Linked DNA regions of Homo sapiens. The protein of the gene in region 1 purifies or fractionates together with the protein of each later gene. This does not show direct contact. Each region holds a gene or a part of one and is shown in the gene's direction. Other genes may lie near its edges. The genes, in order: SPACA3, AADAT and FKBP14.

The links.
Region 2: the proteins of SPACA3 (region 1) and AADAT purify together in Homo sapiens (affinity purification with mass spectrometry; 2 studies listed by BioGRID and IntAct, with this or other methods). This does not show direct contact.
Region 3: the proteins of SPACA3 (region 1) and FKBP14 purify together in Homo sapiens (affinity purification with mass spectrometry; 2 studies listed by BioGRID and IntAct, with this or other methods). This does not show direct contact.

The regions. Positions count from the first base shown.
Region 1 is NC_000017.11:32,991,968-32,999,672, forward strand, and holds the end of SPACA3 (sperm acrosome membrane-associated protein 3), read left to right. Parts: coding exon 1-5; intron 6-883; exon of another isoform or gene 884-1,038; intron 1,039-3,441; coding exon 3,442-3,750; intron 3,751-4,853; coding exon of another isoform or gene 4,854-4,875; coding exon 4,876-5,034; intron 5,035-5,477; coding exon 5,478-5,556; intron 5,557-5,744; coding exon 5,745-5,811; 3' UTR 5,812-5,910; downstream 5,911-7,705. UniProt on the Homo sapiens protein: Sperm surface membrane protein that may be involved in sperm-egg plasma membrane adhesion and fusion during fertilization.
Region 2 is NC_000004.12:170,077,322-170,088,495, reverse strand, and holds part of AADAT (kynurenine/alpha-aminoadipate aminotransferase, mitochondrial), read left to right. Parts: coding exon 1-100; intron 101-1,247; coding exon 1,248-1,380; intron 1,381-3,502; exon of another isoform or gene 3,503-3,747; coding exon of another isoform or gene 3,748-3,771; intron 3,772-9,912; coding exon 9,913-9,987; intron 9,988-11,174. UniProt on the Homo sapiens protein: Transaminase with broad substrate specificity. Has transaminase activity towards aminoadipate, kynurenine, methionine and glutamate. Shows activity also towards tryptophan, aspartate and hydroxykynurenine.
Region 3 is NC_000007.14:30,014,480-30,025,653, reverse strand, and holds part of FKBP14 (peptidyl-prolyl cis-trans isomerase FKBP14 precursor), read left to right. Parts: exon of another isoform or gene 1-267; intron 268-2,837; coding exon 2,838-2,989; intron 2,990-5,349; exon of another isoform or gene 5,350-5,441; intron 5,442-6,530; coding exon 6,531-6,658; intron 6,659-10,760; coding exon 10,761-10,919; 3' UTR 10,920-11,174. UniProt on the Homo sapiens protein: PPIase which accelerates the folding of proteins during protein synthesis. Has a preference for substrates containing 4-hydroxylproline modifications, including type III collagen. May also target type VI and type X collagens.

The DNA.
Region 1 (7,705 bases):
GATCAGTGAGCCCCCTTTCCCTTCTTCCTGGGGCTGTTAACAGGGGCGCTGGGTTGGTCTGGCCAGAGACCAGGTGGAGAAAAACAAGGTGGTGGTTAGGGTGGGGTTATCCTGGCCTGGAAGAGTGACCAGCTGAGAGAGGAGAGAGAGAGAGAGAGAGAAACTCTGGAGCTGTTGTGAAATGCTCAGGATGGAATTCCTTTTAAGTCACTTTTCTACAAAAAAAAAAAAAAAAAAAAAATCAAAAACAGTCCATGTGTAGCAGTCAATTTAGTTTCCTCCTCTACAACTTAGGGATATTAACCCCACACCTTTCAATTGCTGAGAGGATTGGATGAGATTAAGTTGGAAAAGCTCTGGGAAAGGCCTGGCACAGTGTTCAAAGACTTGACAAACTCCACCAGGTTGGCTGCCTCCTCCTTCTCACTCCCCTCGCGGTGAGAAGAAGGTCTCATGTCCCTGTGGCCACGCCTTTTGTGGACTTGAGTTTCAGAAGCAGCCACAGAGCAGCTACTCCATGCCAGCAACTCTGCAGATAAATAAGACATGCAGATAAATAAGACCAGCCGCCGTTCTTCAGAAGTTAACTTTGTGGTGGGAAAGACTGACATCTATTCCAGCCTCGTGTGACAGAGGATGTGGAAGATCGGGTGTGTGAGAGTGTGGGGGGTGGTGGCATGCCAGGAGACTCTCACTGGGGAACACACCTCTGATAAGACCCTTCAAGTATGAGTCAGAGTTAACCATGTAGAGGAAAGGAGAGGGTGAATGTTCTAGAAAGCAAGGTCATTGTGAGAGAACAAGGTGGCACTGCTGAAACATAACGTGTGAATGAGGGAGTGGGCCGCAGGGCTGGGCTGTGAAGGGTCGTGAAGGGCCGTGTGGACCTCGAAGGGGCAGTTATGGTGGGAGCCATCCAAGGTGTCACAGGGCTGGGCTTTTCATTTAACAAATTTGTTCTGATGGATGTGTATAGAATAGCTTGGAAGAGTGGTTGAGACATGATACAAGAAGACCATGAAGGAAGCCAGGATGGAGGTGTGAACCTAGGAAAGGACGGTGCTCTCGGAGGGAAGGTGGAATCCACAGGACATTGGGACTGATTGGTTGGAACTGGGTGAAAGATGTCATGGGGAAGGAGTGAAGAATGACATTCATATTTCCAGTTTGGGTAAATGTGTGGCCCATCATGTTTTAAAGCACATAAGGAAAGTCACAAGGCAGAAGAAGGCATTGATGGAAACAGTGGTTCTGTTTAGATGTGCTGGGTTTGAGGTGCCTGCAGGGCATTCAAGTGGAAGTGTCCTGCCAGTAGCTGCCTCTGAGGTCTTGGGGAAGATGCCACAGGGGTTGCCAGCCTTCAGGCGGTGGCTAACAGCAGGGCTGCCCAGGGGGTTTCCTCAAAGTGGAAGAGAAGAGGGCTCAAGGCAGGAAGGCCTTAGAAAGCATATCAGCGTTTATGGCCTGGGCAGAAGTGAATTCCACGGAGGATAAGGAGGAGAGTCAGCCAGAGAGGGAGGAGGAAACCTGGGAGAAGGGAGCATCGTGGAAACCAGGAGAGGCAAGCCTTTCAACAGCGGGTGGCGGACGGCATGAGTACAGCTGAGAGCTCCCATGAGACAGAGTCGAAGGGGGCCTCCTTGGACCCGCAGAGCAGTTTCAGCGCGCGGTGATGGCAGGGAGGCCAATTCACCAGGTTGGAAAACAAGCGGGAGGGAGAAAGTGGCGATTTTCCCCAGGAGTTTGGGCGAGAAGAGGGGGAAAGAGACAAGGGAGTAGCAGTCAGCATGAGACTTGAGGGAAGGCATTTAGAAGATGGAGACTGAGAAAGTCTCTACGAGCAGGGGAAGGAGGAGCAGGAGGGGAACGGTGCTAGCGCGCCGGGAGAGGAGGGACAACGGATGGAGCAAGGCTTGGTGATGGGAAGGACAAATCTAGAGCTTAGAGGGAAGATGGGCCTGCATGAGATTGGAGGCCCCGTACCCAAACAATGACGGGGTGGAGATGAGGGCGAGGAGGCTACTGATGAGTTTGCAAGTGAGCAGGGCTAAGGCAGAAAGAGGAAGAAATTCCACAAGTGAGCACCTTGCTTTTCTTAGTGCAGCAGGAGACGAGATCATGTTCTGAGAGCCAAGGGGTGGGACAGCGTGGCGTGCTAAAGGACAATACTGAGGGTTTTCATTTCCTGTGAGGGAAATGGGAGAGAGAAGTCTGAGCAGAGACAAGCGCGAGTACCAGTGTTAGTTGTAGTTCATAACAGAAACAACAACTCACTTATTTTTAGTGCCAAGAGCTACGCTGTGCCCACGCCTTTTCTCATTTATTCTTCCAACAATCATATGAGGCAGGTGTTACTCACGTCCTCATTTTATAGAGGAAGAAACAAGCCTCAGGGAGGGCCCAAAATCAGAGATGGAGCAAGGAGCAGAGGGGGGCTTCCAACCCGAACCTTGCTGCAAAGCCATGACCTCAACCACTTTGTCATCCTCGGGGGCATTCAAGGTCCCGTGGAGGTTGGAGACCAGGGACACCAATTGGCACAAACAAGAGTTTGTACAACTCTTTCACTTTTTGACTCTGTGAAGGTGGAGAGCAGGTGTGGAGGCGCAGAGGTCAAGAGAAGCATGGGAAGGCTTGTCAGAGGTGGTGGGCAGTGGGATAGGAGCTCACAGAGGTGGGGAAATGCGGGTGAGGACAAGAAGCAGGGATGACCAGGGCAGGGGAGGGACTGGCTGAGACACAGAGGAACTGGAGGGGACTAGGTCTGGGGAGATGAAGGAGCCCTGATGCTGTGACACCCAGGTGCTAATGTCCTCTGTGATTTGGGGGACTGGCCACACACAGCCAATGATGACAGGGCAGGGAGGTCAAACCAGACGGGCAGGCTGGGCTTCCAGGGAGAAGGGCTTTTTGCAGGTTATGGTTTAGAAGTGGTGGTGGGGGTGGAGGAGACTCTCGGGACATCTTGGGGTCTTGTGTGTGGAGAAAGAGCAGCTTCCCCTTGAGCGGGCTATAGGGGAGCAGTGTTCTGGGGGAGACCTTGTTTCAGTTAAGATCTGGAGATGGAGGGTCAATGCCAGAAGGGCTGTCCCTTGACAGTTGGGCTGAGAGACCCATGAACACACCGCCTGGCCATCCCCTCCGGGAGCATCTGCTCAGTGGGGCTTTGGATTTATAGAACTTTGTCTCCATCCAAACTTCGCCCCTTCCTAGTTATAAAATCTTGGGCCTCAGGACTAAATAATCCGTAACGTGTAATATGGAGCTTACAATAGGTTAGTTTTCTTCCTGTCTCTGGCCTGGGTGGTGTGAAGCAGGATGGGGAAGGAGAGGGGCTGGTCTCGGGGTCAGGGTGATGCTGATCAGGAATGCAAGGGGGCTGATACGTGCTGCTGGAGCCTGGCCTTCTGCCCACCCCTTCTCTCCTCTCCCCTTTCCCAGGGGTGCACTCAAGCCCTGTTTCTTCTCCTTCTGTGAGTGGACCACGGAGGCTGGTGAGCTGCCTGTCATCCCAAAGCTCAGCTCTGAGCCAGAGTGGTGGTGGCTCCACCTCTGCCGCCGGCATAGAAGCCAGGAGCAGGGCTCTCAGAAGGCGGTGGTGCCCAGCTGGGATCATGTTGTTGGCCCTGGTCTGTCTGCTCAGCTGCCTGCTACCCTCCAGTGAGGCCAAGCTCTACGGTCGTTGTGAACTGGCCAGAGTGCTACATGACTTCGGGCTGGACGGATACCGGGGATACAGCCTGGCTGACTGTGAGAACCCCTCTCCCTGGCGGGCCCTGACTTCCCCACACCTCCCTCCCTCTTTCCCTCCCTCTCTCCTTCTCATTCAAGGGCTGTGGCTTCGGGAGCTTTTAGAGCCCTTCTGTAAACTGAAGATGATTTGAGATGGCAGGTAGAGAACAGCCAGCACGGAGTAAAACACGCAGTAGGCAGGCAGCAGGCAACCAAATTGGAGTCACCCCTTCATTTCCCCCTGCTGCTAAAGTCGGGGTCAAAGGAAACAAACAGCTCAGTCCCCTAAACTTAACTATGGCCACAAGGATCAGACATTCCTTCTGAAATTAGAAAAGACAAACTGAACAGAGCAGTCATGCCAAACTTTTCAAGCTGGTGGCAGTTTTAGATGGCCATGTGGGAAGGGCAGTCATACCGGGGCTCATCTTTCTAACAGGTCGAGCACCCTCTATAGATTCCACCTGGGTCTTCCTAATCTTGTTACTGAAGATTTAGCACTTGTAGGCTGGGTGCAGTGGCTCAGGCCTGTAATCCCAGCACTTTGGGAGGCCAAGGCAGGTGGATCACTCTGAGGTCAGGAGTTCGAGACCAGCCAGGCCAATATGGCGAAACCCCGTCTCTACTAAAAATACAAAAATTAGCTGGGCATGGTGGCAGCTACCTATAATCCCAGCTGCTTGGGAGGCTGAGACAGGAGAATTGCTTGAACCCGGGAGGCAGAGGTTGCAGTGAGCTGAGATCACGCCACTACACTGCAGCCTGGGCAACAGAGTGAGACTCCGTCTCAAAAAAAAAAAAAAAAAAAGATTTAGCACTTGTAGATTCATTCAACAAATTTATTGGGCCCTACTATGTGCTGAACAATGAGATAATGGGAAGACTGCTGGGCTAAAAGTCAAGAGGCCTGAGGCCAGCCCCAACCCATGCTATTTGGTAGCTGGATGGGACCCTGGGTGAGTCGCTGTGCACCTCTAAGCCTCGATTGATTGGTTTGCAAAGCAGGTGGGAGGCACCTGCCCCAATCACCTTGATCAGGCAGGAGAGGCTCGGTGGAGCCAGCGTGGGACCTGTGCAGTGAGCACCCTGGTCTGGGGTGGCTGTAACCATCTGACCCCCAGGCCTATGCTCTGCCCTATGCAGGGGTCTGCCTTGCTTATTTCACAAGCGGTTTCAACGCAGCTGCTTTGGACTACGAGGCTGATGGGAGCACCAACAACGGGATCTTCCAGATCAACAGCCGGAGGTGGTGCAGCAACCTCACCCCGAACGTCCCCAACGTGTGCCGGATGTACTGCTCAGGTAGCTGGGCCTGGGCCCAGGGCTGGCAGGAGTCAGGCCCTGCATTAGCTTTTGTTCCATTCCCAGTTTAGTTTGCTACCCCCATCTCTGAGTGAGGGTTCCCCCACATCAGGCTGGGCCCACGGAGGAGAGGGAGATGGGACAAGGGATGAGGGTAGGTCTTCCATCAGTCTGAATTGGGGTCCCAGATAGGAGACTGCCTTAGGGCTATAGGAATGGAGGGAGGATTGTTTCTGATGGAGGGGGAGAGGGATAGGGTTGTACCTGTGCTTCCGGAGTGGTTGAGACAGGATTGGATTTAGGCGAGTGGAGTGTGTGTGTGTGTGTGTGTGTGTGTGTGTGTAGAGAGAGAGAGAGAGACAGACAGATACACACTCACACACACACACACACACCTGGATGTCTCCTGTTCTCTCATTGTGTTTCTCTGCCTATCACCCCAGATTTGTTGAATCCTAATCTCAAGGATACCGTTATCTGTGCCATGAAGATAACCCAAGAGCCTCAGGGTCTGGGTTACTGGTAAGTAACTTGGGCTGGAGCCCCGCAGCGGTGGTATGGTTAGGACTGGTGGGCAGCAGCAGGGAACAAACCCCTTTCCTTCCTCACTTCTGGTTTAGAGACCACACTCTCCTTCTTGTTCTTCTCTGGGCGGTGACTGGCAACTGCAGCTGATATTATCTCTCCTCTTCCCTGTTCTCCATCCTCAGGGAGGCCTGGAGGCATCACTGCCAGGGAAAAGACCTCACTGAATGGGTGGATGGCTGTGACTTCTAGGATGGACGGAACCATGCACAGCAGGCTGGGAAATGTGGTTTGGTTCCTGACCTAGGCTTGGGAAGACAAGCCAGCGAATAAAGGATGGTTGAACGTGAATATGGCTCTCAGCTCTCAGTGTGTCTGCAGGTGCCATGTCAGAGCCAGAGCACCTCCGTTTTCCCTCACCTCACCTGTCCGCTTGGGCTGGGTTTCCAGTGGACTCCAGAAAGCCCAGCACCAGAGGCTTACCTCCATTTCTGGTGGCCTGTGGGCAGGTGTTTGGGGGGGGCACCAGTGCATTTTTTGTCTACCACACCTGGCAAAATTTGGGTCTAGGGTGGCCAGATTTAACAAAACAAATACATAAGAAACAACAAAAACAGGATGCCCCAGTTTAATTTGAACTTTGGATATACAACAGATAATTTTAAGCATGTCCAAAATATTGCATAGGAACATATTTATATTAAAACTATTTGACGTTTATCTAAAATTTAAACTTAACTGGGTGTCCTATGTTTTACCTGGCAACCCTAGCTGGATCTAGGGCTGTGCACCTCTGGCTTGATTGGGAAGGTTCTTGGGACACTTTTTTTCTGCAGCTTTGGTTGCAGATGGTGGTCACTGTGCTTTGGCCCTCCAGCTGTGACTACTAACACACACCCCTGCCAAGCCGGGGGTGCTGCTTGGTCGCGGGAGAAGAATGACCACCCGGAGCTTCTGCTTTCACCTTGCTCTCTGGTGCCCTCTCGTGGCGGAAGATTCAAGTGCCGCTGATAGAGACGGTGCGCTCACTTTGCCCACTACTGCTAGGAGTTTGGAGGATGGGACGGGAGTGACCGTGGCTTTCAATCCGCACAGCCAGTGCAGCCTTCTGCCTTAGTCAGCACACGAGAAGCCCAGAAAAAGATAGCGCGGTCCCCTGCTAATCTGGGACGACTGCCTCTAAAGGAGGAAGGTGGGTGGGTCTCAGGATCGCAGTGGATGTGGTGGCAGCAGCAGCAGTTGCAGAGATAGGATGATGTGTGAGAAGCCTGAGCCCTGAGTTCAGACTGTAGATTCTTCTGAAAAGGTTCCAAAGAAACCTGTAAGCACTGAACTGTTGGTTGAGGCATGGCTGGTGACTCTTAGGGAGAGGAGGGGACGACACTGTCGCCCCCCACCATCCTCCTCCACCTAATTCAGCCACCCTGAATGCCTCCGGGTCAGCATACACCAGAGGGGCGTGGAATGTCCACAATTAGCGAGTCAGGCCAGTTTCCTTCCCCTGCTGGTCTGGTCAAGATGATGATGAAACTTGAGAGCGACTCATGCAAGGGGACAGAGTGGTGAAGAACCCTGCTGGCAGTAGGGGCATCAATGACTAATGGAGCTATTAAATCATAAGTAGGGAGAAGCTGCTGTCTTTTTAACATCAAGGCAAACACGGTGTGCCTACCATGTGCCATGCATTATCTAATCTAGACCCTAGAACAATAGCTATGATGCAGCTACCATTATGACCACCATTCCACAGACAAGGGGAAACAGAGGCTCAGATGAGATAAATTTGCACCCAGCTCAGTGTGACTCCACATGTACGCTTACTCACTGTACTTTGCCAAGGGGTTGTTGTTATGGTCATCTGGCCTGGGACCCATGACCCATCCATCTTTCTTTTTTTTAAATTTATTTTTTGTAAGACAAATTAAAAATTTTATTTATTTTTATTTGTACAACTAATGGGGTACCTGTGTGATTCTGTTACACATATAGATTGTATAGTGGTCAAGACAGGGCTTTTAAAGTATCCCTCATCTGAGTAATGTACACTGTCCCCATTAAGTAATTTTTCATTGTCCACCCCCCTCATACCCTGCATTGTTCTGAATCTCCATTGTCTATTATTCCAGTCCTTTTTTTTTGAGATGGA
Region 2 (11,174 bases), on another chromosome or scaffold:
TTCCTTTTAAGACTGCCGTAATCACTGTAGAAAATGGAAAGACCATCCAATTTGGAGAAGAGATGATGAAGAGAGCACTTCAGTATTCTCCGAGTGCTGGGTAAGTATCAATACTTAACATAATTTTATTGGCTTATTTTCATAAGAAATATTCTAAGGCCCATTGATAAAGAATATTAAAGAAATATTCTAAGGTCCATTCATAAATATTCTAAAGCCATTGACCCATTTGGTCATTCAATGACCAAATACTCAGTCATTGAATACTAACCAAATGAGTATTCAATGGTTAGGAAGGTCTGGGGAAAGGTTTTCAAAGGATAATTAAGAACAGAAAGGATATTGAATGTTTAACACTCCTCAGTGATTGCTTCTCAATCGCAAATGACCAAGAAGGCTTCTAGAAGGAAATACCATTAGAGCTGAGTCCAAAAAAATGAGAAGATGTCCAGGTGAAACAAACATATCAGGAGAAATGAAGAAACGGAAGATCCAGGAAGCTTCAACTTTTTAAAGTTTAAGCATCCTGGATCTTCCGTTTCTTCATTCTATAGTCTAAACAAGCAGTCATGCAAATACATTGAATATAGTCATTCATTTCTATAGTCTAAACAAGCAGCCATTCAAATACATTGCCCTCATAGGTTCAAATGTCTTTAATTTCTTAAAGGCAAGCTGAAACATATACCTTGACTTTCTTAGCTGGTCTTCTTCAAGTGATAAAGGATAATTTATAGAGAATCTATAAATTATACTTTATTAAAACCTGCTTTGTTCTGTGATTGAAAAGTGTATTGAAATGTTATTCATGTATATATGTGTTAGTTATGTAATATGTTAAATATACATAGGCTTATTCAAACATTCCATGATACAAACAACTTATTGAGTCTGAACTTCTAGGTAGCCATAGAACTCTTCCTAGAGAGAACAAAGAATCGATTATGCAACGCATGCGCTAAAGACTTCAGGTTTGGAATAAGAAAGATGTAGATTCAAATCTCAGCTCATTTATTACGTAATTGACTTTCTGAGAATTTCTGGCTGAATGACTTACAGGAATTTCCTAATCTCTAAGTCTACTGCCTATCTTTTAAATAGGAATATTCATACTGGCAAAAAGCATTTGAGGGTTTTTTAATTGAGTGTACAAAGTGCTTGATAAAGCTGTCATTTATTATTTCCTGTCTACTACTGTTACTATGATTTTTACTACTATGAATTTAAATATACATTTTTTGCTTTAGAATTCCAGAGCTTTTGTCCTGGCTAAAACAGTTACAAATAAAATTGCATAATCCTCCTACCATCCATTACCCACCCAGTCAAGGACAAATGGATCTATGTGTCACATCTGGCAGCCAACAAGGTCTTTGTAAGGTAAGACTGAAAGGAAAACTCAGCCAAAATGTAGAATTGGAAGCATTCATTTCTATAGTCCTCTCGCACTTAACCACAGAGAATTATATTTTATGGATTACTGGTAGTCTTTCTTGTCTTCACCTAGAATTATAAACAGGGAACTAAAAGACAAGTCATAGGATGGGGGTGGGAGCAGTTGTGGCCGGGGATGGGCAAGGGTGGGTAGGGGGTGTTGACTGTAAGCAAAAGCCAGGTGGAAATATTGTAGGTTGATCTATCAATATTTCCCCCTAGTTTTCCTCATTGTGAACACAAGGACTTTGAAAAATTACCTGCTCTTAACATCATTCACTAGCCTAATCTTTCTTAAATATTAAATACAGAGCATGTGGTCAATTACCCAGACCTATTAACCATTAAAGCAGGATGCCCACTAAGGGAGTACTCAACTCCTACCAAAAGCTTAGTGAACACTGCTTAATTTCATCTGGCTCAAAAATTCAAGTTACGTTTGATTTCCGCCTATAGTTAGGAAATTTCAATACAATTTTTAAATTTTTTAGAGGGCATGCTTTCATATTCCTGAGATACACATATTTATATTCTTTTACATATCTGTCTGTAGAATCTCTCCTTGCCACTGCTTGTATCTTGTCCCCCTCTTGGGTGTATTTCTCTAGATCTATTTATATGTCTGTATTTCTGACTTCTTATATGGATTGGTTCTCTCTCCCTCTCCCCCTGGCATTAGTTATTCCATCTTCTTCCCTTCTGGGTTCCGGGAACTCCACAGATGTAAACACCACTGGTTAGTTGCCACAATAAAGAGACCACATCTGTGGTCCTCAGTTTGATCTGTTATTTTCTTTTCTTTCTTTTTTTTTTTTTGAGACAGGGTCTCACCCTGTCACCCAGACTGGAGTGCGGTGGCGCAATCACGGCTCCCTGCAGTCTCGACCTCCCTGGGCTCCAACAATTCTTCCACCTTAGCCTCCCAGGTAGCTGGGACTGCGGGTGCACACCAATATGCCTAGCTAATTTTTATATTCCTTTGCCATGTTGGACAGGCTGGTCTTGAGCTCATGGGCTCAAGCAGTCTGTCCACCTTGGCCTCCCAAAGTGCTGGTATATTTTCTCCTTTGTTTTCCATGAATAATAAGATTCTCTATATTCATTCTCAGATCTAAATTAATCTATGACTCCCATTTATCTTTATCTTAAACCAGAGTAGTTTTCTTTTTCATGGAAATATGAAAACTGTAATCTGGTTTGCTTTAATGAATTTTAATTAAATTATTGTTACAGAATAATGGGTTACAGTAGTAAAAACATTTTTTAAAGTTTTTAAAAATTAAAAAAACTTACCCTTTTTGTATTTAATTAGGAAAAGTAAAAGAATTAGCTAGTGTTTGAGTCTTTGCTTGAAGAGAAACATTTGTGATTGTATAGAATGATATAAGAGTATTTTTTAATGAAATAAATTCTTTCCTCAAGAAAGGATACTATGGACTTTTTCTTCCAGAAAGTTGCTCAAGACAGTTTCTTCTTTATCCATCACAACACCAGTTACACAAAAAAGGAAGATAGCATAGATTGCTAAATACGTCAATAACTTACTACTTACAGACATGCTTATTATAGGGGCACTAATATGTATCTGGTTTAATATTTCTTCCACTTTGTTCTCCAGGAGTCATGTTATTTTAGACTCCTGTGTTTCTCTCTCATCTTTTAAACAGTGCTCCCAGATGATAAACAGCCTTCCCTTCTAATTTAGGATATTTGAAATTTGTATGTCCCCTAACTGATATGAAAAATATATTTACAGTTGACCCTTGAACAACGCAGGGGTTTAAGGGCAATGACTCCATGCAGTTGAAAATCTGCATATAACTTTTGACTCCTCCAAAACATAACTACCAATAGGCTACTCTTGACCAGAAGCCTTACTGATAATATAGTCAATTAACACATATTTTATATTTTATATGTATTGTACACTATATTTTTACAATAAAGTAAACTAGAGAAAATAAAATGGTATTAGAAAGTCATGAGCAAGAGAAAATATATTTACCATTAAGTGGAAGTGGATCATCATATAGGTCTTCATCCTCATCTTCATGTTGCTTAGGCTGAGGAGAAGGAGGAAGAGGAGGGGTTGGTCTTGCTGTCTCACGGGAGGCAGAGGCAGAAGAAACTGTGCGTGTAAGTGAACCTGTGCAGTTCAAATCTATGTTGTTCAAGGATCAACGCTAATTAGGTTTTCATTTGATCTGTTGATATGTACGTGCTGCCACCCAAGTGATTCCTTTGGTCCTAGGATGTCTTGTAAAGCTTAAGTCAATTAGAAACTTTTCGGAGGAGGATACTGTTTGTCATAAGATGCCAAAAGCTCATAAGGAAAAGGTAAATTCAACATCACAGGTCAGTTGGGGAACAAAAGTCAAATCTTCTATCTCAATTGATAATGGCCCTACTGTTTGTGGTGAGATGTGGGTTGTTAAAGTGATAGGAAAAAGGACTCAAACTGGGGATTGTGAAACATCACAAGTTAAGAAGCAATTATTCTGTGACTTATGTATGATTTAGTCATAATAGACCCCTTTGATTTAGGCTGGAAAAATCTATTGCCTGGCTCTAGTGATTGTAGTAGAAATCATATTATCCACATAATTTACAAAGATTGTCAAACCTTTTATTACTTGACCTAGAAATATTCTTTAACTCCGTTGATCTCCCCATCCATTTTATTTTAAAAAATTAATTTTTAATTTTTTCTGTTGCCATAAAATACACATATAAGATTTGCTATCCTTGCCATTTTTAAGTATACAGTTCAGTGGTAATAAGTACATTTATATTCTTTATTTTTCCTTCACCCTATCTCCCTCCTGTCCTTTCCAGCCTCTGGTAACCACCAATCTACTCTCTATCCTTATGAGATCCACTTTTTTAGCTCCCACAGATGAGGGAGAACATGCAATATTTGTGTTTCTATACTTGGCTTATTTCACTTAACATAATGACCTCCATTTCTATCCATGTTGCTGCAAATGACAGGATTTTATTCCTTTTTTATGGTTGAATAATATTCCATTGTGTGTATACCACATTTTCCTTATCCATTCATCAGCTGATGGACACTTAGGTTGGTTCCATATTTTGGCTATTGTGAATAAGTGCCATAATAAACATGGAGGTGCAGATACTTCTTTGATATATTGATGTTTTTGTTTTGGATATATACTCAGCAGTGGAATTGCAGGATTATATGGTAGTTCTATTTTCAGTTTTTTGAGGAACCTCTGTACTGTTCTCCATAGTGGCTGTACCAATTTACATTTCCATTAAAGTGTATAAAGGTTCCCCTTTCTCTACCCTCATCAGCATCTGTTATCACTTGTCGTTTTGAAACTAGCCATTTTGAATATGGTTAGGTAATATCTCATTGTGGTTTTGAGGTTTTTCTGATTGCATTGGTAATATTGAACTTTTTTAATGCCTTTTGGCCGTTTTTATGTCTTCTTTTAGAAATGTCTGTTAAGATCTTTTGCCCAATTTTTAATGGGATTATTTGGGGGTTTTGCTATTGACTTGTTAATCCCTTGTCAGATGGGTAGTTCGCAAATATTTTCTCCTCTCCTGTAGGTTGTTCTAGTTCCTTGAAGTGCATTATTAGGTTGTTAATTTGAAGTCTTTCTACTTTCTTGAAACAGGCGTTTATTGCTATAAACTTTCCTCTTAGTACTGTTTTTGCTGTCTTCCACAAATTTTAGTATATTGCGTTTCCATTTTCATTTATCTCAGTAAAACTTTTAATTTCCTTCTGAATTTTTCATTGACCCATTCAGGAGCACGTTGTTTAATTTTCGTGTGTTTGCATATTTTATAAAGTTCCTCTTGTTATTGATTTCTAGTTTTATTATTGTGGTCAGGAAAGATATTTGATAAGATTTGGGTTTTTTTATTTGTTCAGACTTGTTTTATAGCCTAAGGTATGGTCTGTTCTGCAGACTCTTCATTGTGCTGATGAAAAGAAAGTATATGCTGCAGCAGTTGGTTGAATATTTTTGTAACTGTCTACTAGGTCTATTAGATCTAGTATGTAGTTTTATCTCACTGTTTCTTCATGTTGATTTTCTGTCTGGATAATCTGTTCATTACTAAGTGAAATGTTAAAAAGTCTCCTACTATTATTGTATTACATTCCATCTCTCCCTTTAAATTTACTAATATTTGTATACTTGGGAGGTTGTATTATCTTGCTGAATTGACCCCTTTATCATTATATAGTGACCTTCTTTGTTTCTTTTTACAATCTTAGGTTTGTAGTCTATTTTTTCTAAGTGTAGCTACACCTACTCTTTTTAGGTTTCCAATTCCATGGAATATGTTTTTCCACCTCCTCATTTTCAGACTGTGTGTCTTTATAGGTGAGGTGGGTTTCTTGTAAGCTGCATATGATTGGGTCTTGTTTCTTTATCCACTCAGCCACTCCATGCCTTTTAATGGGAGAATGTAGACCATTTCCATTCAGTGTTATTATTGATAAGTTAGAACTTACTACTGGCATTTTGTTGCTTGTGTTCTGGTTGTTTTGAGACTCCTCTCTTCTTTTCTTCCTTTCTTACTGTCTTCCTTTGTGGTTAAGTGATTTTCTCTGGTAGTATTTTATAATTTGTTGCTCTTTATTTTTAGTGAATCAATAATAAGTTTTTGTACTGTGGTTACCATGAGGCTTACAAAAAAAAAATCTTATAACAAGTTATTTTAAAGAGGTAACAACTTATCTTGGATCAACTTATCTTGGAGAAGCAAACAAATGCAAAAAACATAAAAAAATCCTCTATTCTTTAACTCCATTCCCCCCACATTTTGGCTTGAGATGTCTCAATTTACATATTACCTATCTTAACATGTTGCTGTAGCTATTATTGTTTTTGATCAATTTGTCGTTTAGGCTTCATATGAGAATTATGAGTGGATTGCACACCATAATTACAATCATAGAGTATTCTGGGTTTGTCCATGTACTTAATTTTACCACTGTATTTTTTACCTTGAAAAGTTTTCTTTTGCACATTAGTATTTTTTTCTTTCAGGTTGGAGAACTCCCTTTAGCATTTCTCGTAAGATGGATCTGGTGGTGGTAAATTCTCTCGGCTTTAGTTTGTCTGGGAAAGACTTTATCTCTCCATCATATTTGAAGGATAATTTTGCTGGATACAATATTCTTGGATGATCGCTTCTCGGCCTTTTGGCTAAGATCAAGTGTACAATATTTTTGGATGGGCCGGGAATGGTAGCTCACGCCTGTAATCCCAGCTCTTTGGGAGGCTGAGATGGGAAGATTGCTTGAGGCCAGGAGTTCGAGCCCAGCCTGGTTAACATAGCGAGGCCCCATCTCAGTCAATCAATCAATAAAAATATATGTATATTCTTAGATAGCAGCTTTTTTCTTTGGGCACTTTGAAAATGTCATTTCTCTTTTTCCTGACCTGTACAGTTCCATTGAGATGTCTGTTGCCAGACAAATTAGAGCTCATGTATGTATTATTTTCTTCTTTTGTCTTGTTGCTTCTCATATCTTCTCTTTGTCCTTAGCCTTTGAGAGTTTAATTCTTATATGCCTTGAGGTAGTTTTATTTGGATTGAATCTGTTTGATGTTCTCAGACCTTCTTCTGTGGCCTGGATATTTATCTCTCTCACGTTTAGAAACTTTTCTGTTATTATTTCTTTAAATAAGCTTTGTACTGCTTGCTTTTGCTCACCTTCCTCTTGCAGACCACTGATTCTTAGATTTAGTCTTTTGGGGTAATTTTCTGTATTTCGTAGGCACTCTTTGTTCTTTTTTCTTTTTTCCCCGACTGTATTTTCACGTAGCCAATCTTCAAGCTTACCTATTTTTCCTTCTGCTGGGTCCATTTTGATGATGAGAGCCTCTAATGAGTTCCTCAGTTCAACAATTCTGAGTTCAGTATTTCTCAGTTCCAAAATTTCTGGGGTTTTTTGTTATTTTTATTATTTCAATCTCTTTGTTAAATGTCTCTGATAAATTTCTGAATTGCTGTTCTGAGTTACCTTGAAGATCACTGAGTTTTCTTAAAACTGCTATTTTGAATTTTTGGTCAAAAAGCTGACAAATTGCCATCTTGTTAGGATCAGTCACTGGATTTTTGCTTTGTCATTTTGGGGAGGTCATGGTTTCCTGTTGGCTATTGTTTCTTGTATGTATACATCAGTTTTTTGCATTAAAGGATTAGTTATTTATTCTAGTTTTGTTTGTTTGTTTGATTTGTCTGGCTTGCTTTGCTTTTTATTGGATATATTTGCTTAGTAAATCTCTATTGTTGGGTCACTGCTTCCTTGTTGGCATCTTCCAAGGTGGCACCTTAAGTCCAGGTTTAGTAAATAATTCGAGAACAGCCTGTCCCAAATCAGGGAGGTCCCAAAGGATTTATTCCATTGGCATGAGATGGCTAGCAAAAGAATTATACCCAGGAACCTCTGGAACATTCCTCCTGCAGTGTGGTGCTGCTGAACAGTCACTCTGTTTTGGCATGCCTTTCGCTGAGTTACAGTGCAGAGTTTCCAGGGCTTGGGATGGTAGTCCTGCCTCCCGATTTTGTCTCTGCCTGTCCTCAGGGATGTTTTTCCCTCCAGGCAGTCATGATGCTTCCAAAGGGTTAAAGGCAAGGACAGGTCTCCAGCCAGGGAACCAAAGATGGTGGGGAAAACTCTTGGCCACCTCAATCTCACTTTTTCCAGTGTAGAAGCCGTGAATTAGGGGGAGTTTTTCCACGTGCTTGGTGCCAGGCAGAATTGGGAGGAGGGGTATCATAGATGCTGAAGTATGCCTTTCTTACCATCTGTTCAGAGTTTTTTCACTTCTCTGTAGTCCTAGGAACTGACTCATCCTCATATTTGAGTTCTGGGTTGTTTCTGGTGTAAATTTTAGCACTGTATATTTGTTAGTGGTTTTGTGGGAGGGAATGAAGTCAACTTGCTTCTACACCACCATTTTGGAACTGGAAGTCTCCCCCACCCTTTTGAAAACACTGTCCTCCTCTAGCTCTCTCAGTAGCATGTTGTGTGGTTCTCCTCCAGCCCACTTTCCCTCCCTTCCTTGCAGTGTCCTCCTCTACCCAGCCATTATTTATTGGAGTTCCCTGTAGCTCAGTCCTTAAACATCTCTCCTTAGTCTATGTACTTTTCCTGGGTATCTTCATTTACATTCACATGATCAACCATATGCCAGTAACTTCCAGGCTCCTTCCAAATCCATTTGTCCATCTATCCATCTGACATCATCACAGGGTGTTTCAAAGGCACCTCACACTAAAACAAATCATCCTGTCACTCAGATATGGATGGCTTTTTGGTTATGTGTTTCAGTGAATGGCACCACCCCCACCATCTATCTAGTTCCATAACCAAGTATCTAGGCATCATTCTTGACACCTCCTCTTCCTCATTTCCCTATTGTCCATAATCATGTTCCATTACTTTTCATTTCCTAATACCTCTCAGTTCTTCTCTACAATTCCTCTGTCACCACTCTACTTTAAGATGACCCTTACCTGTTCCAGGCCTGTGGCAGTAACTTCCCAAACAATCCTAAAAACTTTCTAAACTTTCCACATGTATTCTCACCCTTCTTTCATTCTTTCATACTGCAGCCAGATTGATCTTTTCAAGACGAGTATCTAATCATGTGACTCCTCCTCCCCACTCTCTTCCTAAAATCCTTACTTGCCTCCCTTGGCTCAAATGCCTACATGGTTGGTCTCTGCCCACTTCTGTCTGATGTCACACCACTCTTTTCTCTACATTCTGCCTCAAGACACATAATTATTTTGGTTTTTCAAATCTAACTGTTGTTACCCCGTACACCAACTCATCGCTTCCTCCAGGATGCCTTCCCTGAATTCCCTGAATGCCTAGGTCTTCCTACAATGAGCTCTTATGTCATTGTGCATCTGTACTTAATATCACTCACCACCGTTTTTAATTTGCACATTTATTGGGTAGTTATTTAATTGGTGTCTAGCTTTCCCAGTGGACCAGTAGCTCCATGAGAGTAAGAACCATGTCATTTTGCTATTTTATCTCTGACACTTTACACAGGCCTGGCGTATAGTAAACATTTAATAGATTTTCAAAGAAGCAATAAAAGGAATAAATGAATGTTAGCAGCCAAACCTCTGTTCACCTTTCTCTGGAACAGGAGTTGGCAAACTATGGTTTGAGAGCCAAATCCAGCCCTTCATCAAATTTTGTAAATAAAGTTTTATTGGAACTCAGTCACACCCATTCATTTATATATTGTCTATGGCTACTTTTTCACTATAGAGGCAGAGTAGTTGCAGGGTAGTTGCAACAGAGATACTATGACCCGCAAAGTGTTTACTGTTTGGCCCCTTATAAACAATTTGCTAATTCTTACTCTAGAACCATGTGAGCTCAAACTAAAAAATGGGCTTCTGAGCATGGAAACAGTACTAACCTATGCTGACTAACAAGCTAACCTATGCTTCTTTTGTTAGGTGTTTGAAATGATCATTAATCCTGGAGATAATGTCCTCCTAGATGAACCTGCTTATTCAGGAACTCTTCAAAGTGTGAGTATACATTTTTACTAAAGGCAACTCTCTTGTAGTAAATAAGAAGAAAACTTATAATAAAGGTTTTATAATAACTTTATTATAATAAAGTTAATATCTTATTAACTTTAAAATAATCTGTCCACAGAAAAATGAAATAGCATATTTTATCCATAAGCAGGATAATCTTAAAGGATATATACAAAGTATGTGAAATGTATTCTCTTCTTTATACATTTCTTTTTTGAAATCCAAGTGTATAGGCATTAAAATTAGATTATGCAAAATCATGTCCAATTCTCTTAATATTTTACTTGAAATGTAACTTAAATTACAAAAATTTATTTTTTATTACTATCTTATTACCATATGCATAAGTACAACTATGTTATATGTCAGTTTAGTATACTTATATGGTATAATGACGACTTTCCATTCCAAGGTTAGATCCGTGGAACTGTGATTTACAGAATGAGGAAGCTGATGATCTGACTCTGCTCTGCACTGGTCAGAGCACATTGCTGAGCATTAGGTTTGTTTGGGGCAGTCTACTTTAAGACAGAAATGTCCACAACTGGAGCATACTCAGAGAAAGATAGTCAGAGTAAATAGGGAATTGGAAGCCATATCATATGATGAATGGTTGTAGGAACTGGAGCTATTTTCCCCAGAAAGAAAAGACTCAACAGAGGCATGAAAACTGTCCTCAAATACATAGAAGTTAGCCATGTGACAAAAGAATTAGATTTATTTGTACATGACCTTAGGTTAATAGAACTGGAACCACAGGGAAACAATTTCAGCTCTGTATAAGAACTTGCTAACCATTGGCCTTACCGGACTTCATAATGGGTTACAACATTGCCCATCACTGTAGGTGCTCAGTCACTCTTGACTGCCACCTAACACAAATATGGCTAAAGTAATTCTAGCTTAGAGTAGGGGAATTCAATGCGATGACTTTTATGCTCTATTGATTCCAACTTCATGGATCCTTTTATTTTTTTCAAATTTTATTTTATTTTTATGAAAATCAACATATAAAGCAATATATAAAACAATTCCATTTGTAATAGCATCCAAAAGAATAAAATACGTAGGAATAAATCTAACAAAGGAGGTGGAAGACTTGTACATTAAAAACTGAAAAATTTTGCTGAAAGAAATTAAGCAAAACTCAAATAAATGGAAAGACTTCCACAGTT
Region 3 (11,174 bases), on another chromosome or scaffold:
TGGAACATGGAAATGGTTTACAGCCTAATGATTTTCAATTAGGCATCGGTTCCATTCATTCCATTATGACAGTATTTAGTGAGCATTTCCTTGATGTTAAGCCATGTTCTGGGTGCTAGGAAGATTCAGAAATTTTGGCTTCTAATCATCTTCATCTATTCATTAGTCTGTCCATCTATCAAACTCTTATTGAATGGTCACAAGTCAGGTCCTGGAGACGCAAAGATGGCTAGAAGCAGGTTCTTGTCCTCTAACAGTATACACCATCTACAGGTGGGAGAAAGACAAGTAAATAATGCAATGATATAGGGTACAGAATATTCAAAGTGCTAGCAAAGCGTAACTGGGCCTGAAGTAGTTAGGCTCCATGGGGTGGGGAAAGGGAAAGACTTCCCAGAGACCATAATTGAAATGAACCTTGGAAGATGGGTGGAGGTTTCCAGGGGGAAAGTAGGGAAGGATGTTGTAGGTAGAGGGAATAACATGAATTAAAACAGTAAATCTTCATAGCCCATCCTCCACCTGATTTTCTAATAAACTGCCTTTACTGGGCATTCAGACCTGGTCTGTCTTGAGGGTTGGGGAAATGAATGGGGCTCTTCTCTAAACTGTTAGCCCTGGGAAAAAGTTCCAGAAAAATGGCTTGCCTTAGAATTCTCAACAGCCCTTTCTTCTTGTCAACTAGGTGAGTGCCACGGTGGATATTAAATGATGTGATTTGCATTTTGAAAATTCAGTTATATTGTTATTTTTAGTCTGATCTCTTTTAGACTCAGCCTGACTTCTTTCAGATTTCTGAACCAAAAACCTGTGCTGACTTTGGTGGTAGCCATGGAATATTATTTAGCAGTTTGCTACTAAGTTCTAATACCTGATGAGGGGACTGTTATCATGCAGCCTCCATGTAAATGGTCAGAAGCTGCTAACTGTAAACTTCATGAAGAAATACCATCAAATTGGCTGGGCGTGGTGGCTCACGCCTGTAATCCCAGCACTTTGGGAGGCCGAGGCAGGCAGATCGCGAGGTCAGGAGTTTGAGACCATCCTGGCCAACATGGTGAAACCCCGTCTCTACTAAAAATACAAAAGTTATCTGGGCGTGGTGGGCACCTGTAATCCCAGCTACTCAGGAGGCTGAGGCAGGAGAATCGCTTGAACCCAGGAGGCGGAGGCTGCAGTGAGCCAAGATTGCGCCGCTGCACTCCAGCCTGGGCAACAGAGCGAGACTCCGCTCTGAAGAAAAAGAAATACCATCAAATGATCAGTTTGTAAGCACGTTTGCCATCTCTAGAACCATAGCCTATGGGATAAATTGCTTAGCCCTAAGAAGAACTGTGCTAAAATTGTAGTCAGTGATGAGTAGTAGAATGTTTCCTGCTTCTTTTTTCATTTCTAGCCTTCCCAAATTTTCTACAGTTGGCATTTTGTTACTTTGATCATTGGGCAAAATTACAGGAAAAAATGGCATTACCCAGATTTAGTAACCATGGTACTCATGAAGCGTAGTACAGTGACTTCTTTTTCTCACCTACAAGATATCCTTGAATAGAATATTTTCCTTATTGCACTGAAAGGGAGCTAGGTAGGGATCAGGCATTACTCAGCCCTTAAGCCTCCCTGTATGTAGTTCGGCAGGTTGGTTTTCCTAGGCTAGACTCTCTTCAACTCATGAGCCAGGACATTCTATTTCCCTCGTCCCCAGTTGATAGGGTTCCGCTATGGCCCCACCCAATTCTCATCTTAAATTGTAGCTACCATAATCCCCACATGTTGTGGAAGGGACCTGGTGGGAGGTAATCGAATCATGAGGGCAGGTTTTTCCCATGCTGTTCTCCTTGTGATAGTAAATAAGTCTCACGAGATCTGATGGTTTTATAAAAGGCAGCTCCTCTGCACACTCATTCTTGCCTGCTACCATGTAAGACGTGCCTTTGCTCCTCCTTTGCCTTCCGCCATGATTGTGAGACCTCCCCAGCCATGTGGAACCGCGAGTCCATTAAACCTCCTTTTCTTTATAAGTTACCCAGTCTTGAATATTTCTTCATAGCAGTATGAAAATGGACTAACACACCAGTCCTTGAGGGGCTACTCTTCCAGACTTTCCTATATAGCCCCACTGTAGACCCCTGAGGAGGAAACTGGGCTAGGGTCTGAGTGGGGATTTAGGGATGAAAAGCAGCCTTTTCTACCCGTCAGAGCCATCAGCAGGCCATAGCTAAGGCAAGTTTGTAGGCAGGATATAAGACACTGTGCTTCTCACTCTTCATATCTGTGTGCATATGGACCCACATATGTTGGCAGTAAATTCTCCTTAGCCTTTCAATCTCCTTCCCAAACTCAGCCATTTTTCCATTATTTTCTCCTTGTTCTGCAACCTAGTGGCCTTCCTGGGACAACATAACTTTGTGATTAAGACCTTGAACTTTGGAGTTAGGTTTAAAGACTGGAACTTAACCTGTGTTTCCTCATCTGTGCAATGGGGTAGTAATGGTACTTATATTATAGACTTATTGTAAGGGTTAAGAGGCAAAAAATAAAATAAAATTTAGAATAATTCCTGGTATACAACAAATGTTCAAATGGTTGTTGTTTTTATTATTTCCTCTGTCTTTCTTAAGCCCAGTCAAGTATGTGAAATTTGCATCAAGAAAGATGGGCAGTGAATTGAATTCCTATAAACTTGACTTGGAGGTGTGTGTGTATGTGTGCAAATACAGAATTGCTGTATTTATAAATTTTTAAACTAATAAACTTAACCACTTACTGGTGGGAAAATGCACTAAAGAAAATTTTTTAGAGTTAATAAGGAGTTCTAATGTGTTTTATTTCTATCATAGTCACAAACATAACAATGGTCAGCCCATTTGGTTTACCCTGGGCATCCTGGAGGCTCTCAAAGGTTGGGACCAGGGCTTGAAAGGAATGTGTGTAGGAGAGAAGAGAAAGCTCATCATTCCTCCTGCTCTGGGCTATGGAAAAGAAGGAAAAGGTAATAGTATTTCTGTATTTTTCTTACTATAGCACTAGAGTTGTTCTCTGGATTAGGAGACAGAAGTTAGAGTCACTATAACTTTTTTTTTTCCCCTGGAAGTTAATAGGGGGTATGTATTCCTTTAGCAACTGTATTATGTCTTGAGTATCAATTGAAATGGCCAGTTTAAGGCCGTAATGTCTAAATGGGCAACTATGCTAACAATAAAAAAAGAACATTGAGGTCTATTAATACTGTTCACAAATATGGTGGGTTGTTTTAATTGTGATAAAATATACATAAAATTTTTCATTTGAACCATTTTTAAGTACACAGTTCAGTGGCATTAAATACATTCATGTTATTGTGGAACCATCACCACTATCCATCTTCAGAATGTTCTCATCTTCCCAAACTGAAACTCACCAATTTACTTTAACAATGCAGAGAGAAAGATCCATTAACGTAAGTGTTTGGATGAGTTGAACATGTGAAATATAGATTATTAAAGTATTGAATGCATTTTAGATGTGGGTTATATATGGGTTGTACTTCATGAATATTAAGTCTCCCACAGCAAACTGGGAGTTCTTTTCATTCCCGTTTTTAAATTTATTTATAAAGTTTTTAACAATGTATTTAAAAAAAATCATAGAGTGACATGAAATGAATTTAATTCTCCCTGTGTCACAAAGCAGAAGCAAGCTGGCTAGCTGGTCCGGACAGCTTTTGTACTAGTTTTTCAGGGCAGACACATATCCTGCTGTTCAAGTGAGAACCCCTGCAACTTTCCAAAGAGCTGCTTTGTGATATATATCAAGAGGTCTGGGCCAGGCATGGTGGCTCACACCTGTAATCCCAGCACTTTGGGAGGCCAAGGAGGGTGGATCACTTGAGGTCAGGAGTTTGAGACCGACGTGGCCAACATGGTGAAACCCTGTCTCTACTAAAAATACAAAATTAGCTGAACGTAGTGGAGTGCACCTATAATCCCAGTTACTTAGGAGGCTGAGGCAGGAGAATTGCTTGAACATGTGAGGCAGAGGTTGCAATGAGCCAAGAACGTGCCACTATACTCCAGCCTGGGGGACAGAGCCAAACTCCATCTCAAAAAAAAAAAAAGAGGTCTGAAGATGTCTATATGCATTTATTCTATAATTCCTTCAAACCTAAGGGAATAATTAGATATCAGGAAAAAAATTTGTGAACAGGGATGTCCATAATTGCATTGTTTCTAAGCAAAAAATTGGAACTGTCGTAAGTGGTATACTGGTAAGAATTTAGCTAAATAAAATATGGCCCAGTTATTTAAAATGGCATTTCCAAAGAGTTTAAAAATTATATCTGAAATGCATGAGATACAGTATTATATATAAAAGTAGAAAATAAACCTATAGTATATATGATAGTAAATATAGGAAAAGGTACATATACATAGAAAGTTAATCATAAGGAAATAAATAAGAATGTTAAAAATGGACTGTGATACTGGGAATCATATTTATTTCTGGTTTTATCATCCAAGTATGTGCTCTACAATGAGCATGTATTACTTACATAATGAAGAAAAAAAAGTTTAAGTAGTCATCAGAACCAGACAGACAACTACTCTGATATAGTATAAATATAGACTTCATAGCATCCTGAAGTCTAAGGTTAACCACTGACAAAAGTGAGGAGTCAGGATTCACAGCCCATTTCCTGAGAAGGAAAATAGATGCCATATGGCAAGCATTATATATTCCAAAATATACAAATCTATACAAATCTTGTTCATAGGATAAGATTAACTAACCAAATTCAATTCTTCTTTTAGTCATAATCCTCTTTAGAGAAGAAAACCAAGTATCTAGAAAATTTTTTCTGATGCTGAGAATGTTTTCATTTTATCTTTATTGTCTCACCTTTAATATTTACATACAGTAGTTCCCCTTTACCTGTGGTTTCACTTTCTACCGTTTTAGTTACCTGTGGTCAACTGCAGTCTGAAAATATTAAGGTATTTTGAGAATGAGAGACAGATTGCATTCATATAACTTTTATTATGATATGTTGTTGTAATTGTTCTATTTTATTATTTTTAATCTGTTACTATGACTATTTTATAAATTAAACTTTATCACAGATATGCATGTATAGGAAAAAGCATTGTATGTATGGGGTTTGGTACTATCCATGGTTTCAGGCATCTAATGGGATTCTTGGGACATATCCCAGTGGGGACTACTGTACGTTGTATTAGTCCATTACTCTTTCTCATACTATATTTAACTCAAGTTTACTTCACAATAAGTAGAGATCTAAATTTGAGTCATTTCCTTCAAACTGAATGCCATGAAACTAATTTTTCTAATCTGTATTTAACACTAATTTTGTAGTCTTTTAGTACATGCTTGCATGCCTCTTTTGGAAAGATACCAGTTTTATCAACAACCTAGCGCATGTCACATCTCTGTCTAGATCTGAAATGGTAAGCTTCAGCACACTTTATAAGTCTTCTCTTTGGAATTTATGAATGTTCTTTCATGGAAATATGTGGGATGGGGGGAGGATGACTAAGAAATATTTAACATGTTTACACAGACCTGTATGTTAAATATAGTTATAAGGAAACAAGTTTGAGAAAAACAATTGTCCATACTCCACAGATGGGTGTGTTTGTTTGTTTGTTTGTTTGTTTCAGGTTCCTGGGATTTTAACAAAGCTCTTTTCACTTTTAAAGATTTTTAATTTCCCTTCTCAGAAATTCATTTTAATTTCTCCCCTCCCATGAAATGTCTTCAACATATATATAATGTTCTATATCAGAGGTAGTGTTTCCTAACTTTCTGAAATTGTTAAACCTTCCTGCATTATTTTTAAAGCCTGTGAGAAAATTATACCTCAATAACATGTATTGAGAGTTTACTATTTGTCAAGTTTAATGCTAAGTATTTTGCATGGATTTTTCTCCCTTTATCCTCCCAACAGACTCCTGAGGAGGAAATTTATTATCTGCATTTTATAGATGAGGAAATTGAGGCTTAGAGATGGGCAAATGTAAACTTCAGCCTCAGACAGTGTGACACCAGAGCTTACTCAATTATATGGGTAGAAATGCCTTCTAGTGGTAGAAATGGCAATACTGTATGTATTTCTAGGTCAGGACTTTCTGACCAAAAAGTTAGTTTATTACTTTTAATATACTTAACTCCGAATTATCTAAAACCCTTCAAGTCCTTCTTGACATATAATATGTAATATATTAATTATATTAGAAATGTAATACCTAAGCCATTAGGTACATCTCTATGTATGTATATGCATTGTGTGTATGTGTATTTACATTTTAATTGCTAAGCCAAAGATAGAATGCTTTTGCTCTGCTAGTGTATATTATTTCTTCTTTTACTCTATTCTATTCGAGTAAAATATAATATACATAATTTTCATCATATATGACAATCTTAGGAAGGCTCTTTAATTCAGTTAAAAAAAATACTTTGTCCATTACCATAAATTTTCTATTATTAAAACTTTTGGCTCTTTTAAAACTTTCTGCCTTCTTTCCTCACGTCAGGTAAAATTCCCCCAGAAAGTACACTGATATTTAATATTGATCTCCTGGAGATTCGAAATGGACCAAGATCCCATGAATCATTCCAAGAAATGGATCTTAATGATGACTGGAAACTCTCTAAAGATGAGGTGACCTTTCCTTCTTCCTACTCCTCTTTCTACTTTTCTTTGGTTGTTTGGGGTTTTGTTTTGTTTTGTTTTTGTAACTCACTTTTTAAATGAATATGTGTATATTTCAAATCTACTTTTATTTAGGTAACATTTATTTATAAGTTTTCTTAAAATACTGATGCTTTGAAAGTGGACTTTTTCATAGTGAATCACTGTTTTGGAGAGAAATATATTAAGACTTAAAAAGCACCATTCAATCTTTTGCTTTTTTCTTCCCAATGCTTAGGGTTCACTGTATCTTATGCTTACCCTTGGGTCTTTGAAAGAACAATTTTGCCAAGACAGTTTCCATCTGGAGTTACTGTATAAGAAGCTAGCTGTCCTGAGAAATATCTCATGTGGACAGTTTCTGTTAAAACTGTAGACTGGCTGTTAAATACATCTTGTAGTGTTTTCCTGGCAATTAACAGCAAGCAACTTACATGCTCTGTTTTGTTCAGGTTGCCCCAGAGAAAAGAGACCCCAGCCTGGGTTTTACACAGCAGGGCTCCAGCCCCATCAAAATCTGAGCCTTTGGGTAAAGAGAAAGGAAGAAGAGGCTTCTCCTTATAATTCGGCCATTGCTACACATACCTGTCTTAGTCTGGCTGCTGCGGGGAAAGAAGTGGAGGGAGATATTTATTCCTGTTTTTTATCTACTCACACTCCATTCTGTCCTGACTGGTCAGATATCAAGTCCCTTTCTATGCTTTGATCAAATTCATTCTAATGGCCAGGAAATGATTAAGTCTTGAATAAGCCAAATTGTTACGAACCAGGGGTTCATGATCCACAGCCACTAAATTTATAACACCTCATAGTATTACCAGTCACATGCCTTTTTCTTCCATCCAAGATAAATTTTAATTCCCTTTCATTAAATAATTTTGAATATATAACACAGTCACATGGTTCAAAACAAAAATCTATTTATTTATTTATTTATTTATTTATTTATTTATTTATTTATTTATTTCCTGAGAGGGAGTCTTGCTCTGTTGCCCAGCCTGGAGTGCAGTGGCAAAATCTCGGCTCACTGCAACCTCTGCCTCCTGGGTTCAAGCAATTCTGCCTCAGCCTCCCAAGTAGCTGCACCATCATGCCTGGCTGATTTTTGTATTTTTAGTAGAGATGGGGTTTCACCATATTGGCCAGGCTGGTCTCAAACTCCTGACCTCGTGATCTGCCCACCTCGGCCTTCCAAAGTGCTGGGATTACAGACGTGAACCACTGTGCCCAGCAGAAAGATATTTATTTAAAAGTCTTAGCTGGGTGAGGTGGCTCACACTTGTAATCCTACCACTTTGGAAGGCTGAGGCAGGAAGATTGCTTGAGGCTGAGACTTCAAGACCAACCTGGCCAACATAGGAAGACTTTATCTCTATTATTTACTGTTTTTTTTTTTTTTAGACGGAATCTCACTCTGTTGCCAGGCTGGATTGCAGTGGTGCGATCTCAGCTCACTGCAGCCTCTGTGTCCCGGGTTCAAGCGATTCTCCTGCCTCGGCCTGCCAGGTAGCTGGGACTACAGGTGCACGCCACCATACCCAGCTAATTGTCGTATTTTTAATAGAGACAGGGTTTCACCATGTTGGCCAGGATGGTTTCAAGCTCCTGACTTTGTGATCCGCCTGCCTTGGCCTCCCAAAGTGCTGGGATTACAGGTGTGAGCTACCGCATCCGGCCTATTATTTACATATTTTTAAAAGTCTTTCTCCTACCTACATCCTCTTCTATTCTATTATCCCCACATCCAGTTTTATTAATTACTTTTTTCTTTCTTTCTGTTTTTTTTTTTGTAGAGATGAGGTCTCGCTATGTACAAGCATGCACCATTGCACCCGGCTTAGTTTTATTAGTTTCTAATATATCCTTTCAGTGTTTCTTTCTGCAAATCCAAATACATAGTCTTATTTCCCCCTTTCTTACACAAAAAGAAGCAAACTATACATGCTGTTTTGTCGTTTTGCTTTATTCACACAATATATCCTAGAAATACATTCTACATTAATCCATAGAGTTTAATGGATTAATGGATCTCTCCCCCACCCCTTTTTTTAACAACTGCATTAAATCACTTTAACTTAAAAATAAATATATACTATATGTGTACTTCTTGAAAGCTGGGGGAGAGAGGATTTGAAATTGCTGGTCTAAACAGAAGGAAGAGAGGTGATATAATTAAAACTGAAAATATAGGCTGATTTTCATTGTGGTGAATCTTGTGGGAAATTGAAAACAATATTTATATTTTTAAATATCTGAATGAAATGAAAATGGAGTCCGGGCATGGTGGCTCACACCTGTAATCCCAGCACTTTGGGAGGCCAAGGCAGGCAAATCTTCTGAGGTCAGGAGTTCGAGGCCAGCCTGGCCAACTTGGTGAAACCCTGTCTCTACTAAAAATACAAAAATTAGCCAGGCATGGTGGCAGGTGCCTGTAATCCCAGCTACTAGGGAGTCTGAGGCAGGTGAATCGCTTGAACCTGGGAGTTGGAAGTTGTAGTGGGCCGAGATCGTGCCACTATACTCCAGCCTGCGTGACAGAGCAAGACTCTATTTCAAAAAAAAAAGAAAAACAAAAAAACAAATGAAAATGGAAAATTGTAGTCTAGGCACTTATCAGACCTGACTTTCTGAGATTGAAAGGTTGTGATTAGACTCAATCTAATCACATGATCATAACCAAAACCCAAAAGACCCACTACTTGCAGACATTTATTCAAGTCAAAGATGCCACTATTTAATCTAGTTTTAAGAGAAGTGTCCATGGGGTGCAGTGGCTCATGCTTCTAATCCCAGCACTTTGGGAGGCTGAGGGGTTTAGATTGCTTGAGCCCAGGAGTTCAAGACCAGCCTGGGCAACATGGTGAAACCCCATCTCTACAAAAAATATAAAAGCCAGATGTGGTAGCACATGCCTGTAAGTCCCAGGTACGTGTGAGGCTGAGGTAGGAGGATTGCTTGAGCCTGGGAGGCAGAGGTTGCAGTGAGCTGAGATGGTGCCACTGCACTCCAGCCTGGGTGACAGAGCAAGATTCTGTCTAAAAGGCCGGGCGCGGTGGCTCACGCCTGTAATCCCAGCACTTTGGGAGGCCGAGGCGGGCAGATCACGAGGTCAGGAGATCGAGACCATCCTGGCTAACACGGTGAAACGCCGTCTCTACTAAAAATACAAAAAATTAGCTGGGCGTGGTGGCGGGCGCCTGTAGTCCCAGCTACTCGGGAGGCTGAGGCAGGAGAATGGCGTGAACCCGGGAGGCGGAGCTTGCAGTGAGCCGAGATTGCGCCACTGCACTCCAGCCTGGGCAACAGAGTGAGACTCCGTCTCAAAAAAAAAAAAAAAAAGATTCTGTCTAAAAAAAGAAAAGAAATGCCTAGTATTTAGATTCAGATTAAGAACAAGTAGTATGCTCTCATTGGGTATTCTCCAATAATATAAGCCCTATATGAGGATTGTATACATGACATAAGCTTTATCTCTGCCTTTGAGCAATATATATATAGAGAGAGCTATATATATATATATATTTTTAATTTTTTAATTTTTTATTTTTTTGACAGAGTCTCACTCTGTTGCCCAGGCTGGAGGGCAGCAGCGCAATCTCGATTCACTGCAACCTCTGCCTTCCAGGTTCAAGCGATTCAACTGCCTCAGCCTCCTGAATAGCTGGGATTACAGACGCATGCCATCATGCCTGGCTAACTTTTTTTTGTATTTTTAGTGGAGATGGGCTTTCATTATGTCGGCCAGGCTGATCTCCAACTCCTGACCTCAAGCAATCTTCCCACTTGGGCCTCCCAAAGTGCTGGGATAACAGGCATGAGCCACCACACCTGGCCCTGCCTTTGAGCAATATTTTGTGTCTCCACTTTAGCAGTTTAGCAACAGTTTTTTTAAGGGAAAAAGTTTCTATTATTTTTTAATTATCATTAAAACTATGTCATAAAATGGCTGTTTAGAAGGTATTATATTTAGTTAATGAACTAAATATAATAACAGTCCATGTCTGTGATATTGATTGGCTCAATGTGGGTATCTTATGAATCCAAGTTATTAATGGGATCTGTTATTTTGTAGGTTAAAGCATATTTAAAGAAGGAGTTTGAAAAACATGGTGCGGTGGTGAATGAAAGTCATCATGATGCTTTGGTGGAGGATATTTTTGATAAAGAAGATGAAGACAAAGATGGGTTTATATCTGCCAGAGAATTTACATATAAACACGATGAGTTATAGAGATACATCTACCCTTTTAATATAGCACTCATCTTTCAAGAGAGGGCAGTCATCTTTAAAGAACATTTTATTTTTATACAATGTTCTTTCTTGCTTTGTTTTTTATTTTTATATATTTTTTCTGACTCCTATTTAAAGAACCCCTTAGGTTTCTAAGTACCCATTTCTTTCTGATAAGTTATTGGGAAGAAAAAGCTAATTGGTCTTTGAATAGAAGACTTCTGGACAATTTTTCACTTTCACAGATATGAAGCT